2 separate regions of the Homo sapiens genome follow, and region 2 is linked to region 1. The links come from fine-mapping of genetic effects on gene expression. Tissue or cell type: monocytes. Region 1 holds a variant in brackets; the other region holds the start of a gene. All regions are shown on one strand. Distances are from middle to middle.

Region 1 (8,347 bases):
TATTAATTGTTCTTTGATTGTTGACCCCTCTCCTGTGGTGTTCCAGTGTTCTTTAGAGATTTTGTGACACACAGGCTCATGCTTGCAGAGTCTTACCATGTCACTGCTGAGGGGTAGAGGAGTGACACTCCTAAGTCACAGAGCCAGTGGTGGAGCTGGATCTGAACCAGGCGGTCTGGCCAGTCTGAACTCTTCATAACCAAGGTGCCCTTTCCCTCTCTCTGATATTGATTCCCACTGCTCTGCCACTGCCCTGCCCAAAGAAGGGGCTTAGGAAATACAATGGAAAGACTGAATGAATGAATGAACGAGAAAGGGAGAAATAAAAGAAGGAAGGGCAGAGCTTGAGATAAGCAAGCCCAAAACTGCACCACAAAGCCCCTGGCCATGTGGCGGGAGCGACAGGTGCCATCTCTGGGAAGCACTCTGAGAACCAGCTAAGGTTCAGGAGTGTATAGGTTGGGAGATGGGGGAGAAGCTGGACAAGAGAATGAGAATGGAGGGAGATGAGGCCAGAGGGATAGCAGGAGGGGAGTGGAGACAGGACCAGCATTGACTGAGTATCTGCCAATCATTTGGAGAGGGGCTGGGCACCTGCCCCTGTTTATGTCTTCTGCTTCAGCACAGACCCCTTAACTGGAACCAGCTCTTTAGAGAGAACTGCCTGATCTGTTTCTGGCCACATCCTCTCTGAGCAAGGTCCTGGGCTACCGGTCACATCCCCAGCATGGGTACTTGGCTCTTAGCAGAATAACTAGACAGGACACTAGGGAAAACCTGAGTCATCCCCTCACCACCTCCAGGCCTTGAACTGCCAGGGCTTGTGGCCAAGAGTGCCCACCAGAGGAGGGGTTGGAAGATGAACTTCCCACCTCACCCCCTCCTGCCCCTCCGTACACTCCCAAGTGGAAATGAAAGCACCCCTGGAGTTAGCAGGACCTCATGGCATAGACCTATCATGGCCAGAGAGCTCTCTTTGGAGCCACCCTCTACCCCAAGAGTGGACATGAGCCCCAGCCCCTCTTGAACAGGATAGGGCAGTGGTTAGGAGAATGGGTTGGGGACCACCAGGCCCAAGCTCTGCTCTTCCCCCAGCGGCCCTTAGTTGAGTCTCCATTTCCTACTCTGCAGTGGCAACCACACTGTGGATTGATGGAGAGACCAAGGAGAGATGTGATGAGGGCAGAGCACCGTCCCAAGCCCGAGCAGGCTCCCAGTTATCCCTAGAGGTGGCCATGGTGCTGTGACAAACTCTGGCCTTGGCCCATCGAGGTCATCTCAGGGGCCTACTTGAGATTTCCAAACTATGGATATCAGAACTGAGTTAGCTGCCGAGTAGGAAAAAATCCGTGCTGGCCTCCACCATATGCCTCCTCCCATTGCCTGCTCCTCACACCACCATACACACACTGTGCAGTCCCCACCACCAGCTGCTTCAGAGCAGCCAGGTGAGGGAGGTGATATTCACAGCCTGTGATCAAAAGGGCATTTCTGCACCCAAGCCTCAGGAGAGTCCACAGTGATGTCCCGAAACCCTCTGACCCTCCCAGGGAGAGAACTCCACTAGACAGACAGGAAATGGGGCATGGGGCTCCAGCACCCACACCCAGCCAGGTCACTGCAGTGACCACAGAGGCCTCAGCAGCAGCTGCCACCCCTCGGACTTTCAGCTCTCAGGTAACACCCTCCCTTTCCATTTCTGTTTCCTCAGGTTTGTCTCTAAAAAGGTATTTTATCACTTGACGGTTGATCGGCCTGTGATCTACGATGGAAGTGATTTCCTGTAGCTTCAGCACCTCAGTAACTTCACTTCATCCACAGGAAACACTGCTCTTCCTCACCTGTCACATAAAGCATTTTTTTAAAAAGTCAGCTGCTCCAAAATCATCAACTCAGCCCCTGGGCTGCCCCTCAGAGGCGGTGTCTGGGGAGGACTTTGTGCTCAGCACTCTGCACCGGCCACTCTTAGCCCCCGAGGCGTTGAAGGGCTCAGGCAATGTTTCCATTAAGTAGAGACTCAGCTGTTGTCACACCCAAAGGGATGCTCTGCCAAAGGTTTAAACACCCAGGAGACCATCAGCCTCTCCTGGGAGCACAGTTGGCTACAGGCCTCTTGTGGAGAGTTTCACGGGCAGGGGTGATTCCAACTTCTGCCTGTGGAGAGATTTTCTGCCCTGCCCCACCAGGGCCCTGCATGTTGGAGACTGAGCTGGGTGCACTGGCCATGCCCTGTGAATCCTCAGGCTGTGACGCCCTCAGGTACTCCTGGGAAAAGGAGGTACACAGCCATCATGCGAGTCGGTGCCAGGGGACCCCCCGGAGATCCTGACCAGCTCCTCCAGTCATGCTCTTGTCCCTCACTGCCCCAGTAAGCTGGAGGCTGCTCCAGAACTCAGCAGTGTTGGAGGGGCCTCTAAGCTGCACTCTCTTTCTGGCCCTTTTGTCTGGGTGATTCTGTCCTCAAATAAAGCCCTTCACTCAGCCAGACCTCTCCACAGCTCAAAGCATTGCCCTAAGAATCAGAAGTAAAGATAATCCAAGAGCAAAACCCACTGTACTTGGGGCCTGCAATGGCTGTGTGTACACTACATCTAATGCCCAAATGCCAGCCAGTGTGGATGTTGTGACCACAGAGCAGGATTGTGCATTGGCTTTAGAGCTACTCCTCAGCTGATGGCCCACTTTTGTTTATATAAATAAGAGCTTCTGCCCCACCTGCAGACATGTTTACTAATGATCATAGCCAGGATTAGAACCACTTTCAAACATTGGGGCCTTCTTAACAAAAGTCTTTGATAACTTAAGAACCAAAGTAACAGAGTAAACAGAGGCATGATGGATCCCTGGGCCCCACTCCCCTCCTGACAGGTTCCCCAACAGCCCATTTGCCCACTTCCCACTGCTCAGCCCACACCAGACCTCCAGGAGACATCCCCCCTTGAGGCAGAGAGATCCTGTTCCCTATTCCCAGACAAGAATTATTTAATCTTCCCTGTTCTCTGTGGTCCTTTTCTTCCCCAACAACAGATAGCTCACCTTGGACAGCTCTTCGTCCCTTGTTCATGGAACCAGCTGCCTGCAGTCAGGCCCCAGGTTCTTCCATGGGTGAACAGAGCATCTGACAAAAGGTCCCAGTTTGGCCAGGGGTGAGGGAGAGAGCACCAGACAGGCTATCCGAGAATCTGAGAGCTGGGCCCGGCAGTTCCTCCAGCTACCCTTGTGACCTAAGTCCAGTCACACATTTCCCAAAGTTTCTCTTTGTCATAACCCTGGTCTGGCTGGTTTTGAGGGCTTGAGAATGGGTCAGGGACTCCAGGCCAAGTCCAACAGAGACCCCAAACCCACCACACACCAGCAGCCACAACCTCACCACCAACAAAGAGGACTTTTGTGGGGCCACAAGTAAGAGGTCATTTCTGGAATGGACTCAGACCTTTAAACAGGAGAGTTGAGCACTTCCAGTCAGTTTTTAAGCAAGGCATGGGGAACAGGGAATAGAACCTTTCAAAGAGGTTGCCCAGAGAAAAGCTGGGCCTCTTGCATTCGGCTTCCTTGGAGCAGCCTCTTCTGGCAGAAAGCCATCAGGTGCTCAATCATCTTCTCCTGGCCAAGGCTCTGACCATGCTTAGTACTGGAATAGAGGTGGCCAGGCCCCCAGCGACTCTTCTTGGCCTGATGTTTGTCCTCACAGGCATGCCACGTGGCCTGAGATGATTCAGAACAAATCATGCTAACTTTGAATCCATCCAGCCACTTGCAAATGATAATCAGAAGTCAGCTTGTTCACTGTTAGAAAGAAACTAACAAAAGAGAACCCAGAGCAATCTAGAATCTTTGAGTGCTTGGCTTTCCAAGGATACTGCGGAGACTCTGGCCAAGCTGATGACCTTCTGAAGTGTCACTGGCACCATATGCAACAAGAACCACCATTCACTGAGTAGCTAATGGGTTTGGGGCCTGGGACATTCCATCTGAGGTCCTTCCTGAACATGTCACTCCACAGCAGAGGACCGGTTGCAGCTTACCCAGAACCACTCCTCCAGGAGAGCTGGATGTTTTGCGTGCAACACCTTGAGCACTGACTGCTATTGTTCAAAAAAAGCCTTTGCTGCATTCGGAGGACTGCCCCGTGCCCTGAGGTGACTTCCTAACTATGTGGTTTCATTAGCGAATTTATTTTTTGTGCTGGGTG[G/A]ACATTTGTATTTTGTTAGGTTGCTGTTTAAGCTCAAGTTTGCTGTGCTCTCTGCAGCTACAAAACATCTTGGCATATTTAAGAGTGGCTTTTATAAATAGCTTTATTCTGATATTAATCAGATTCCCAACTTTACTGAGAATTAAGGACTGGGGTACTTTAAAGAAATGCAAATAGCAATTGAAGAACCACTGCTGCAGGTGGTAGCCCTGGCTAGACTGAATTACACTAGAAATCAGCCAGAAGGAAGCGTCCTTGGGATCCCAGATCACTCTTTTTTTTTTTTTTTAAAAGGGGCAGCCCCTTGATGGCTCATCTCTCTGAATAACAGTTACGTCTTCATATCGATACCAGATGCCTTCTTCATCATGCCACTGAAGCCACTCACCACCTTCAAGAACATGCCAACCTCTGTCAGATTCACTTACCCACAAACAAGGAGGCACGTTTGGCACAAAGTGTTGTCCTCCAGGTCCAAGTGGACTCTACAGAGTGCTTGACCTCAACACACTGGATTCCAGGTGGACTGGACCAAGAGCAGGCAAAGACACGGGAACTGAAAAACTCCACAGGGTTTGGAGAATAGAAATGAAAAGCCACGTCATATAACTCAAGAATAAATGGTGTTTTGGAAATTTTAAAATTATCATCGAAGGTGGTGAAACTATTTCAGGCCCAAATGAAAGGAAATCGCCAGTTGGGGATGAAATCACAGAGCCTGTGTTTTATGATATGGTTGGATGTCCACTGATGAAATTTTAAAGGAGTTTCAGTTTTAAAAGTGCGCATGATTCTACATATGAGAATTCTTTAGGCCAAGAAACTGTCCTTGGCTCAGAGGTGTTGGGAATTAAAGCAGAGAGAAGCCATTCGTGATGCTTAGAACCAAGGATGGTCATGTACACAAAGACCATCGAGACGGCCATTCTTGTTTACAAAACACTTACCAAGAAAGCACTTTGTAGGGGAACTTTAGTAAGTTCTTCTCATTTCATTATGTTTCTTCCAAGGAAACAGGAGAGACTGAATTAATAATTCTCTCTTTCCTCTTAAGCACTTTTAAAATAATAAAGTACATCTTGAAATTTGGGGAGGCATCTCTGATTTAAAAAAAGAAAAAGGCTGCTTGATGTATGTTATGCAGAGACACTCTGCCTCTGGTGGCTGCAGAGCAATACCCAAGCCTCATTTGGAAGGCTCAACATTTGGAATTGCACTTTAATTGATTAATCCTCAATTCATGTGGCCTTACGGGATGGTGGGTCTGGGACCCCAATTCATTCTTATCTGCCAAAGAATTATCTAGAAGCACATCAAATACCAGCACCCCACCTGCTCAATGGGGGTGGAAAACTTTTGTATCCCTAAGCATATTATTTTATAGTGTCTGCCATGCCATGTGGAAATACTTTATTTTTAACCTCAGGATTTAAATAAAGTAAACACTATGACATTTAGACATTTGTCTCTCATTTTTTTGGGACATAAAGTGCACCACGAAGTTATACAGAGCTGAGTTGGGGTTGAGCTGTGCTGCTGGGAAATAGAGCATCTTTTATGGTGGCTTTTCAGGAGGACTTGAGCCAGCAGATGTTCTGGGAAGTTTCCAGGTGGCCTGGCACCTGGCTGCTTCCTGGCCTGCTGTGAGGGTGGTGTTTAGACCTGCCTGAGACAGCCTGTCTTTCAATCCATGCTGTTGTGCCCTATGGGCTTCTAGCCTCAGCTCAAATGTCCAGATCTCCCAGGGCACCCACAGAGCATGTTGAGCAAAGAGCAGACTTCTGAGTTTACCGGAACAATGGGGCTGGGGAGAAGCATCATGGATGGCCTAAAACCATGATTGGTCAATATGAGGTACAAAGCTGGGCAAGACTGCCAGGCTGAGATGGCTGGCAGAGGAAGAAGTCAGCCCTCCCATTCCCGCATACCTTTCTCTGGCTGGGTCAGCAAAGAGCCTGGACAGAGGCCCAGAGGGGCATGCCCTGGTCACTGCTGGATGTTGGACTGAGCTCAGGCTGGGCAGCCCACCCACACTCACCTCACACCCCCACTCCAGGGATGACCAGGGCTCTGTCCCTGCAGTGCTCTGCACCTCAAAAGAACACCTCCCCACACCACCCCTTCACCGCCCTTCCTCCGCCAGCCCTCTCCTGCTGCCAGACTTTCGTTTGGCCTCTTCTTTAATCTGTTACTCCATGGAAGAAGTCACATTTTCTGTAACTCTGGTTCTCTCCCAAGGATAAAAGACAGTGAATCCTTCATCTTTATCTTCATCTCCCTCCTCCCTTCTCTCCCCACCGCAGCATCGAGCAACATGCCAGGCAGGAAGGGACTCAAAAAATACTGAATTGACCTCTCGGGTCAGTCCCAGTGCCCTGGGTCGCCAAAAAGTCATCAGCATTCCCACTGGCGACTAACTCTGCCAGGAATAGAGGCTCCTGAAACACTCCGGTGGCAGAGGAGGGAAAGGGTGGGCCTGCAGGAGGAGATACAGGCAATGATAGCTGGTCACTCAGTCCCACCCCCTGCACCCCCTCTTATGTCAAAGATGCCCTTGGGCTGGGCGCAGTGGCTCACGCCTGTAATCCCAACACTTTGGGAGTCCAAGGCAGGAGGATTGCTTGAGCCCAGGGGTTCAAGACCACCTGGGCAACACAGTGAGACCCCGTCTCTACATTTTTTTTTCTTTAATTAGCCAGGTGTGGTAGTGCATGTCTATAGTCCCAACTCAGTAGAGGCTGCAGTGAGCCAAGATCATGCCACTCCACGAGTGACAGAGTGAGGCCCTGTCTCAAAAAAATAAAAAGGTACCCTCAGATCAAGTATCTATCTAGTAACCAGATTGCAGTAATGGCAGATAGTTACTCCACCTGCCCCAAATGACAGAGCCAGAGAGTTTCTTTGTTAATACAACAGTCCTTCCTGAGGCTTGGGGGCCTCATGGGCTGGGGGCTAGAACAAGAAACAGTTGAGACATACATATATGTGTGTGCTGTGCATCTGGGGCTGGGATCTGGGGACCTCCAGGTCAAAATCCTCCATTCCACCTCACCCCACCCTGCTAAACTGCAGAATAACTCAAGATGACCCAAGTCTTTGCTGGAGGGTTTCCAAGCCCCACGCTTGATTCCAGGTAATCCGGGCCCAGTTCAGTGTTCACAGGCTCTGTGGCACAAAGAGGTGCCCCGCCCCTCCCTGCCACTCTGCCGGGTGAGGGCTGAGGATGCAGAGACTCCTGGGTGACTCAGAAGGCTCCTCACAGCAAGGTCAGCCCTTTCAGTTTGAAGACGCGTGGGAAAAATCTCCTCTTGCCACCCACACACATCTGAAGAGCAAACAGATGGTGAAACCAGTAGCCCAAGATGAGAAAACGGACTTTTTTTGAGACAGCAGTTGAAGCTGAAGCCTCAAAAGCCGGGCGGGGGGAAAGCATAGCAATTATGAAAGACATTCAAAGTGGGTTAGGGGTGAGGGAAAGGTCAGCCTTTTACTTTTCCCACACCCGCTGTTTTCTGAAGAAGGATGGTAATGCGAGCAGAAGGGTGATGGCCAACCTCTGGGCTTTGATGTGTGTCCCCTCCTCCCGCCCCCATCCTGCAAGCTCTGGGGAGGTCGGAGACTAGTGTGGTTTCCTCACACCTCCCACCATGCTGGCACTGAGGTTATCTAAGAGTTGACAGCCCCATCTAAAGCCTTGAATGAATTAAGTCTTTTTTAGCTAAAAAATGAACAAAACCTGAGATGCATGAGTGTCCTTACCAAAAGGAAGTCCTTGTTTCTAGGACAGGTCTGTCTTCGGGCCTGTGGGTCCATAGAATCATCACAGAAAAAATGATTTCAGGAGGTCTCCCCCGCTTTCTGCTCCCAAGGCCGACTCTGACTGAGCCTCGGAGGAGAGAAGGAAGCCATTTCTGGGAGGCCAAAACGTCCGTCTTCCAGGTCAGTGGGGCAGGTGCTGTCTTCTCCCTGGCTTGAGAGAGGAAAGCTGGTGAGGGAGAAGGGTGGGGCGGAGGTGGGCGGTGCGGGGATAAAAGATCGGAGAGCAAAGCAGTGATGAGAAAAGAGGGGTAACAGAAAGGGCCTCCCTAAAGGCTGCAAGGAGGGCTGGACCCAGGGCTGCTTAGCAGAAGCCATCTTTCTCATTGGAAGAAAGGG
Region 2 (8,000 bases), 76 kb before region 1:
TGTTGATTCTGCAGTCAACTTCTGATTCCTTCCGTGGGTCTTACACTCGAATTTTCCAGCAGAGAGATTAATTGACCAGTGACTATCAAGAGGAGGCTGACTCTTTTGAGCTGCCACCCCATGCCATTGGCATGGCTGGCATCCACTTCTGGCCTGACCAGCAGGGGCCACAATGGTAGGGTCCTTGGCAGAGCACATGGCTGCCCCATGGAAGGAGCTGCCATCACAGTGGTTAAAGGCTTAAACTCTAATTGGACAGACCTGAGCTCAAAATTTGTCTCTGCCACTATAAGGTTTGGGCTTTAGGCAAATTAGCTAACTTCTCTAAGGCTGTTTGCTTATCTGCTTAATGTGGATAATTATGTATCATGAGACTGATATAAGGATAAAACTAAACCAGGTGTGGAATACACATAACATGGCACCTGGCACATAAAAAGCCCTTAACAATCATTCCAAGAGCCTCATCCCTCCTCAGGGCCGTGGGCACGGTCAGCTTCCCGTGAGGAATAGTCTCCTCTTCTGCCACTTGTTAAGGCTGTAAGGAGAGGGTGTGGGGATTTGGTGATTTTGAATCTGATCTCTTAATGTGTATTCACATCAGAACACAAGAATATGCTGCGTTTGTTTGTATGTTTGTTTGAAAGATTATAGTTTGAAATACTCTGCTGTATCTATAAAGGAAATCCAAGTTAAACTACCTGAACAGTAGTGATTTTGTTAACCTTCCCTGTATCTGACAGTGTGCTGGGTGACAGAAGACCCCTCAGGAGCCCCCAGCTCTACCCCAGCCTCCACCACTCTCCACCACTTATTAGGTGGGTGGACCAGGACAGTCATTTAACCTCTCTGAGCTTCATCTCCTCATCTTCAAAGTATGATAATGAATACTAATTATGTCACCAAGTGGCTGCAAGTTTTAAATATAATGCTGAATGGGTTTTTGTTGTTGTTTTTTGTTTTTTTGCTGGGGGGCTAGGGACTGGCATATAGGTCCTCAATAAATATTAGGTTTGTTTTCCTTTTCTTTTCAAACTCCTTTTGGGTTTAAGTTTCTGTGGTATTATGATGTCTGTCTATCTGTCTGTCTATCTATCTATCTATCTATCTATCTATCTATCTATCTATCTATCTATCTTGGTTTTCTTCCATGGTTCCTGGCTCATAACTCCCATAGCCCTTGTTACAGTCTTTTGTTATGTTAGGTATGTTAGGCTTCAGGAAACCGAATCTCTCTGGCCTTCTGCCCTCCTTTCACCTGCTTTAAGGCAGGACTCTAATCTTCCCCCGCCTTTCTTTCTTTTTTTTTTTCTTTAAGATGGAGTTTTGCTCTTGTTGCCCAGGCTGGAGTGCAATGGCTCGATCTTGGCTCACCGCAACCTCCGCCTCCCGGGTTCAAGCGATTCTCCTGCCTCAGCCTCCCTAGAAGCTGGGATTATAGGCATGTGCCACCACGCCCGGCTAATTTTGTATTTTTAATAGAGATGGGGTTTCTCCATGTTGGTCAGGCTGGTCTCAAACTCCCGACCTCAGGTGATCCGCCCACCTCGGCCTCCCAAGGCGTGAGCTGGGATTACAGGCGTGAGCCACCGTGCCCAGCCGCTTCCCCCGCCTTTCTGATTATAGGTCTTAAGACCCTCCCAAGAGAGGGTCCTCCCCTATACCCTGGGGGAAGCAATGCTGACATCACGAAGCTTCCATAAAAGCCCAAGAGGACTGGATTCGGGGAGCTTCGGGATAGCTGAACACGTGGAGGTTACTGAAGAGTGGTGCATCCAGGGAAGGCATGGAAGCCCCACGCCCCTTCCTCCACACCTCATCCTACGTGTCTCTTTATCTGCATCCATTGCAGTATCCTTTATAATAGACCAGTAAATGTGTTTCTCTGAGTTCTATGAACCACTTTAGCAAATTAGCTGAACCCAAAGAGGGTGTCGTGGGAACTCAACTTGAAGCCAGTCATTCCAAAATTCTGGAGGCCTAGACTTACAACTGGTGTTTAAAGGTGAGGAGGCAGTCTTGGGGACTGAGCCCTCCACTTGTGGGATCTGATACTCCAGGTAGATAGTGTCGGAATTGAATTGGAGGACACCCAGGTGCGGTCCACTGCTCAGTGTGTGGGGAAAACCCCACACACATCTGGTCACCAAATTATTCTCCTGTGTTGATGATTGCTGTTGTGTAAGAGTAGAGGAAAAATACGGTTTGAGGGAGGTTTTTTTTTCCCCACACAGTTTCAAACAAGGATATTGGACCAGATGACCAACATTAAAATCTCTCTCATCCTTAATATTGCATGAAGCTGTTCAGACAGTGGTTGGAGCAATGATTTCTCTTAGACCACTACATTGATTACTTTTCTCTTTGTCATCTTCTCACTCCCCCCGTTTTCTTTCTGTTCTCCTTTCTGTTAACAAGAGTGGAAATCACTTCTATTCATGTACCTCCTCCCAACCCCACCCCCAAACTGACTACTCCATCCATCCAACTCACTGTTTTAGCTACATCTAATTTATAAAATTAGATGGCTAATGAGATGTCATAGCCTAAAATCGACTAAGAAATTGATTTTCTTTCTGTATTATTGTACCCAGACAACACCCTGCTTCCTCAGTTTAGAATGTTGGGCCACCACGGTTCCTGACTGGATACCACGAGCTAGGTCCTACAAGGGAGAGAGCTGTTTCTGGCTTAAATGATGAGAACTAGGGCAGAGAGTAAAGGATAGCCAGCCACAGCTAAGGAATGCAGTCAGTTAGAAGCCAAAGTCCCCGTGTAGTGTTCCTCTTTTCTACTGTGCCCATAGCGGACACTGATTGAATGCATTTTGTTCTATCGTATTCAGTTCCACAGTGCTTTGCAACACCCATCTTATAAATAGAAGTTGGGCTGAGGATGGGGCCAAAGTTAGGGGTGGTAGTTCATAAACACGTAGTTTTTGAGCACTAATTTTAAGTAAGACCCTGATATTAAGAAATAAGGGGGATTAAAAGATGGGAAATTAGGCCCACCAATACATGTTTTTCTATTTCCCAATATATCAAAATATTATCATTTTAACATGCAATCACTAAAAATTAATGAGCTAGTTAACATTCTTCGGACTCTTTGGTACCTAGGTGTATTTCACACTTACAGCACGTGCACGATTCAACTCGAACTAGCTACCTTTGGAGTGCTCCTTAGCCACACAAGAACAGCGTTGTTGTCAAGATGCCAGACCTTTGATTTGTGGCCCTCCGGGGTTGCAGGCGTTAACCTGGGGCCAGCATGGGTCGCGGGTGGGACAGTCGGTCCGGGGACTGGGCGGTGGGAGCACTTAAACCCCGCCCTGCGGAGTCGCCGGGAGTTGTAGTCGGAGCCCCGGGAGTCCGATGGGAGTTGCAGGCCTCAGCCCCGGGGAGCACGCCGGGAGTTGTAGTCCGCCCCCGCCACCCTCTTGGTGTGCGCGTCATGGCCGTCAGCACCGCGTTCCCGTCCTCTTCCGCTTGGCCCCAGAAAGTTTCGGTTCTGCCCGGCGGTGGACCCACGAGCGCGTAAGTGCCGCGGAAGACCGGCTGGACTCTGGGGGCACCTGGGTCGCTCACGATCCCTGAGGCGAGAGCTTCGCTCGGGGCGCGGCTTGTCACCTGTTGCCCTTACAGTCCCCGCCCATCCCAGGTCTCCCTCAGACCCTGCCCGAGCGCCCCCGTCCTTGCCCAGCGGGCCGGGAAGCACCTCGGGCAGGTGGAAGCCGGCCCAGGCACCCAGCCTGCCTCTGTTGGTCGGTTAGAAAGACAGACCCCAAACACCAGTTCCAAGACCCCGGAGGGCGGAGGGCCCGCAAAGGAAAGGAGCCCACCATGCGGCGTCTCAGAACAAGCCTGAATGTCTTAGCGCAGGATGGGGCAGGCCCCGGAGTTCCTGCCTGCGTGGTCTTTAGGAAGTTTAGTCTCTGGCCCAGTTGGGCCGGGACAGCCCAGACCTTCACTTTGCAAGACTCCGCTGGTGCTCGGATCTCTGCCCTCTTCCCAGGAGGGGAAGAAGCTTCTTTCTTCCTGGCCCATCCTTTGGCCAAGACCTATTCACTATCCACTGCCCCTTGTGCCCATGCGCAGGGTCTCGAGCTAGCCCCCAGGGGTCTTTTCCCGAAACACCTGTTGTCTCTGGTGTGGCGGCACTGCACTGGACTGGAGTCCGTGCTGTTGAAACCTGGCGGGGGTGGGGCGGGGAGGGGGGAGGATGGCGGGATTTTATTTTTTGTAAGAAAAGCACATGTGGTTGACACGTTAACCGCGTGGCCCCCTGTTAAAGCACATGTATTCTCTGATGTCCCTGTCACTCTTCACTGTTCCCATTGGGTGTCCTCTCCAGAAAAAAAAATAGAACACTTGTTGAAACTGCCTGTGTTGGCCAGAGCCTCTCAGCCCCTCTGCTTGTCTTACCACAGCAGTTTCCTTTCCCGACAGAGAAATGGGTCAGGGGCTTTTGCGGGGCAGAGGATCCAGGGCTTAATCTGCTCACTGGTTCTCCTGCCCGTGCAGGCCTTGTGGTCTCAGGCTGCAAGCTTAATTCCCCTGCCATCTGCCTAATGCGGCTGGAGGGTGTTGGGGGCTGGTGTGGGGGAGGGGTGGGGAGCTGGAGCTATCATGCCAAGGTTTTCTGCTTTCAGTAGTTCCCACCTTCTGAAGTGGACCCCTGTTGAGTGAGCTCCACTTGACCCTCCCTTCTGTGACAACCACTGTTCTGAAAGCATTGAATGCCCCATACTAGTTGTGCACCGTGGTTATTATCACCCTGAAAATAAGAGCTAATTGTCACAGTGATGGATCTCAGCCTCCTTTGATTAATAGGATCTCTCCTAAAGGCTCTTGCTTTAGGAAATAGAGTTTATCTGTTTATGTTCAAAGTGACTATCTTTGTGTAGCACTTCATTTACTTTTTAAATTGTTTTTAATATTTTATTAGAAAAATAAACATACAGAATCACTGAAAGGATTGTATGGTGAATATCCGTATACTCAATTCTTAATATTTTACTTTGATTTTTTTTTTTTTTTGCAGTTACTTTAGAGATTGGTAACAGTCTCAGGCAGTGATCCTTTAGCTGTTGTTCCGATGACCTTTGCCCCTTGGGGCTGGGTTTGGAGCACCAGTATAATTTCAGGAGCCAAGTTTTTAACCTGGTCCTTTTTGAGGGGGATGGCCCCCATAGATGTTTGTGATGAGAGGAATCACCCATAACAGAGCAAGATCAGAGCAGCTGGTAGCTTTGACCCATATTGGTCACCAAGGCTATGGACTGCTGACTCAAGAATACAAAGTAGGTACGCAAGAAATGGCAGCCCCCTCACCCCCACCCACCCTGCTTCCCTTTAGGGGAGATGTTTAGCTGATAGGTAACTTTTGTTTACTGAAGATTCCAAAGACACAGCTTTGGTGACTCAAGACTAGAATGTCTTTAAACATGAGGCAGAGGAAGTGTGTTGTCTAGCTGTGGTCTTATGGTGGAAATCACTGGTAGGCACCTAGATTTAGGAACCACGTTCACTGCAAGCAGCCCTAGGCAGCAGGTAAGGGTCATTAACTGGTGCCTGTGATTACAGAGGCAACTTGTGAGCACAGATGAGTCCATTATGGTCAGGGCAACATCTGCTCACGTCATGACTGCTATGTTCTTGTCTTAGTCAAAAGATAAACAGTATTTTGTTTGTGAGCTCAATGCCAGTTTCAAGAAAATAAGAAGTCTTTATTGGTATAAGAGCCTCTATCTGAGCAATTAAATAAATCAATAGGGTGGGAATTGGAATGTTTCTGTGGTTCTACCTATGGAAATGCTGTTTACCTTCTTGCTGTTCGTTGATACATCACAAAAATGGCTGAAATGTCTGTACTACCCCCATAATAAGAGCCATTGCCTTGGAGCAAATGGGCCCCATGGCTTTGAGAAGAGGATGATGGCAGAAGCTGTGCTCAGTTAGGCAAGAGCAGTTTTATCCCTTTTCTCACATGGGAGCCAGTCAACCTGTTGATTTTAGTAACTTCCAGTGGTCCTTCCTGTTCACTTGGATCTCTGTGGCATTTGAAAGGCACCAAGGGCCTGTTTCTCATTAGGCCGGATGCCATTTGGAGGATGTGTACATCAGTGTGGTTCTGATGAAAGACTTAAGGAGAATCTGTGGTTTGGGTATAGTATTGTGGCCCTGTGGCTGGGACCCAAGGGCTGATCTGGCCAACTACCTCAGGAATCTAGAGTACTATACCCTAGGCCAGTCCCAGGAACCCGAGTTAGGGGAAGTCCTTAGCATACAAAAGAAAAGCTTGGACCAAAAAAAGCATTCCAAGAAAACCATTAGCATGCAGGGGGCAAGGCCAAGAGAAGAATCCCTATGTGAAGTCCAGGATAGGGCTGGATAGCTGAATCAGAAACAGTGGTTTAAAATGGAGCTGGAAGGAATTTCCTGAAGTTGACTCTGCAGCCCCAGATGCTTTTTCCAGGGTATCTGTAGACTTGGTCAGGAGCAGGGAGGGGACACTTAGAAGCCTCAGCCACTGAGAATGTCTGTTACCCCCCCTTTCCCACCTCCTTCAAGGGTTGCAATTCTTAATTAATTCACATGAAGGAAGTTTACCTCTCAACATTGCATCTGAAAAAAGAAAGGTAGGAAGAGGTCAAATGACTTCCCCAGGACAGATAGAGTGCCTAAAAATAGTTGAGTAAGCTAAATATACCTTGGGTCTCACCCAACCATGGCATGATCTTTGTTGCATAATACATAATGGAAAGTTCACGTAACTAGTCTGATTCCAAAATCTAAATAGGGTCCCATTTGACAAAACTTGGCTACCACTGGTAAGAGAGAAGAAAATATCTTGCTCATTGCTCCAACTCCAGCTTCAGAGCCATCCTGGGTCCTGCTTGCCCCTCCCATCTGCAGCATGGCCCCACCTTCTGCCTCTCTGCACCTACGCTGGCACTGCTGTTGTCATGCTCCTCCCCAAGAAGTGCAACAGAACCCAGGCCCACCAGCACCTCCCCTCCCCAGGTTGCCTTGTTGATGGTGTCACATGCACACTTTCAGGAATGGAGAGACAAGGGCCTTGGGAGGTGTATTTGTGCTAGGGCTGCCATAACAAAATACCACAAACTGAGTGGCTTAAGCAGCAGAAATGTACTTTCTTACAGTTCTGGAGGCTGTAAGTCCCAGATCAAGCCATTGGCAGGTTTGGCTTCTCCTGAGGCCTCTCTCCTTGGCTCTCAGACAGCCGCCTTCTTGCTGTGGCCTCACACGGCTTTTCCTCTGTGCTCCGCATCCCTGGTATCTCTTGTGTGTGTCCAGAATTCCCCTTATAAACTCACCAGTTCCAATTGGATTTGGGCCCACTCTCATGGCCTCATTTAATCTTCATTACCTCTTTAAAGGCCCTGTCTTCAAATGCAGTCACATTCTGAGGTATGAGGGTTAGGGCTTCAACATCGAAATGCGGTGGGGTGGTGTGCACAATTCACCCCCTGACAGGAGGTTTGGGTTAGCAGGGTTGTTTGTGAGGGTGGCGGTGCTTTTCATTTTCCAGGATGGGGTGAAGGAGGCTGTGGGTAAGGCTTCCTCGGGAACCGAACTGTGGTTCACACTTCCTCCTGTCCACACCAAACCCAGCGAGACTGGAGCAGCTGGCCAAAGGAAGGTGTAGGGAGCATGAGCTGGGCAGGGCATGGCCTTGGCAGAGGGAGCAGAGCATTCAAACCCTGGAGGCAGGGCCCAGCCACAGAAGGGCATCGCAGGGATGCCTGAACATAGGCAGAGGGGAAGAAGGGAAGGAGGAGGGACAAGAAGATGGGCCTATCCCTATCGAGGTCAGGCAGCCCATCTGTAAAGGGCCTCACAAGCTGGGTTAAGAGATTTGTACCCATGTCTGACAGCAGTCACCTGAGCTCTCAGGACACCAGAGGTCTGTTTATAAAGAGAGGCTAGGTAGGCAGTGTGGAGTAGACACACTTCATCCATCCCTGAATTATATTA

The links. PIP is the estimated chance that this variant, and not a neighbour inherited with it, causes the effect.
Region 2: FYCO1 starts here. The variant in region 1 is fine-mapped to the expression of FYCO1 in monocytes (TOPMed, PIP 0.91).

The regions. Positions count from the first base shown.
Region 1 is chr3:45,915,205-45,923,551 of GRCh38, reverse strand. FYCO1 (FYVE and coiled-coil domain autophagy adaptor 1) reads left to right here. Exons shown (of 18, transcript NM_024513.4): 18 at 1,712-5,649. The coding sequence ends at 1,787. It also overlaps a transcript of LZTFL1 not described here. Among named protein-coding and RNA genes, the nearest start is that of CXCR6, 24 kb to the left of the region's middle. RefSeq lists enhancers at 7,375-7,644, 7,084-8,283. The variant G/A (reference allele first, on the strand shown) is at 4,193.
Region 2 is chr3:45,991,258-45,999,257 of GRCh38, reverse strand. FYCO1 (FYVE and coiled-coil domain autophagy adaptor 1) reads left to right here and starts at 3,434. Exons shown (of 18, transcript NM_024513.4): 1 at 3,434-3,536. It overlaps LOC105377063 (a long non-coding RNA gene), which reads right to left and starts at 3,355. Exons shown (of 3, transcript XR_940799.3): 1 at 3,169-3,355. RefSeq lists enhancers at 3,406-3,565, 3,586-3,635, 3,136-3,635, 5,681-6,181.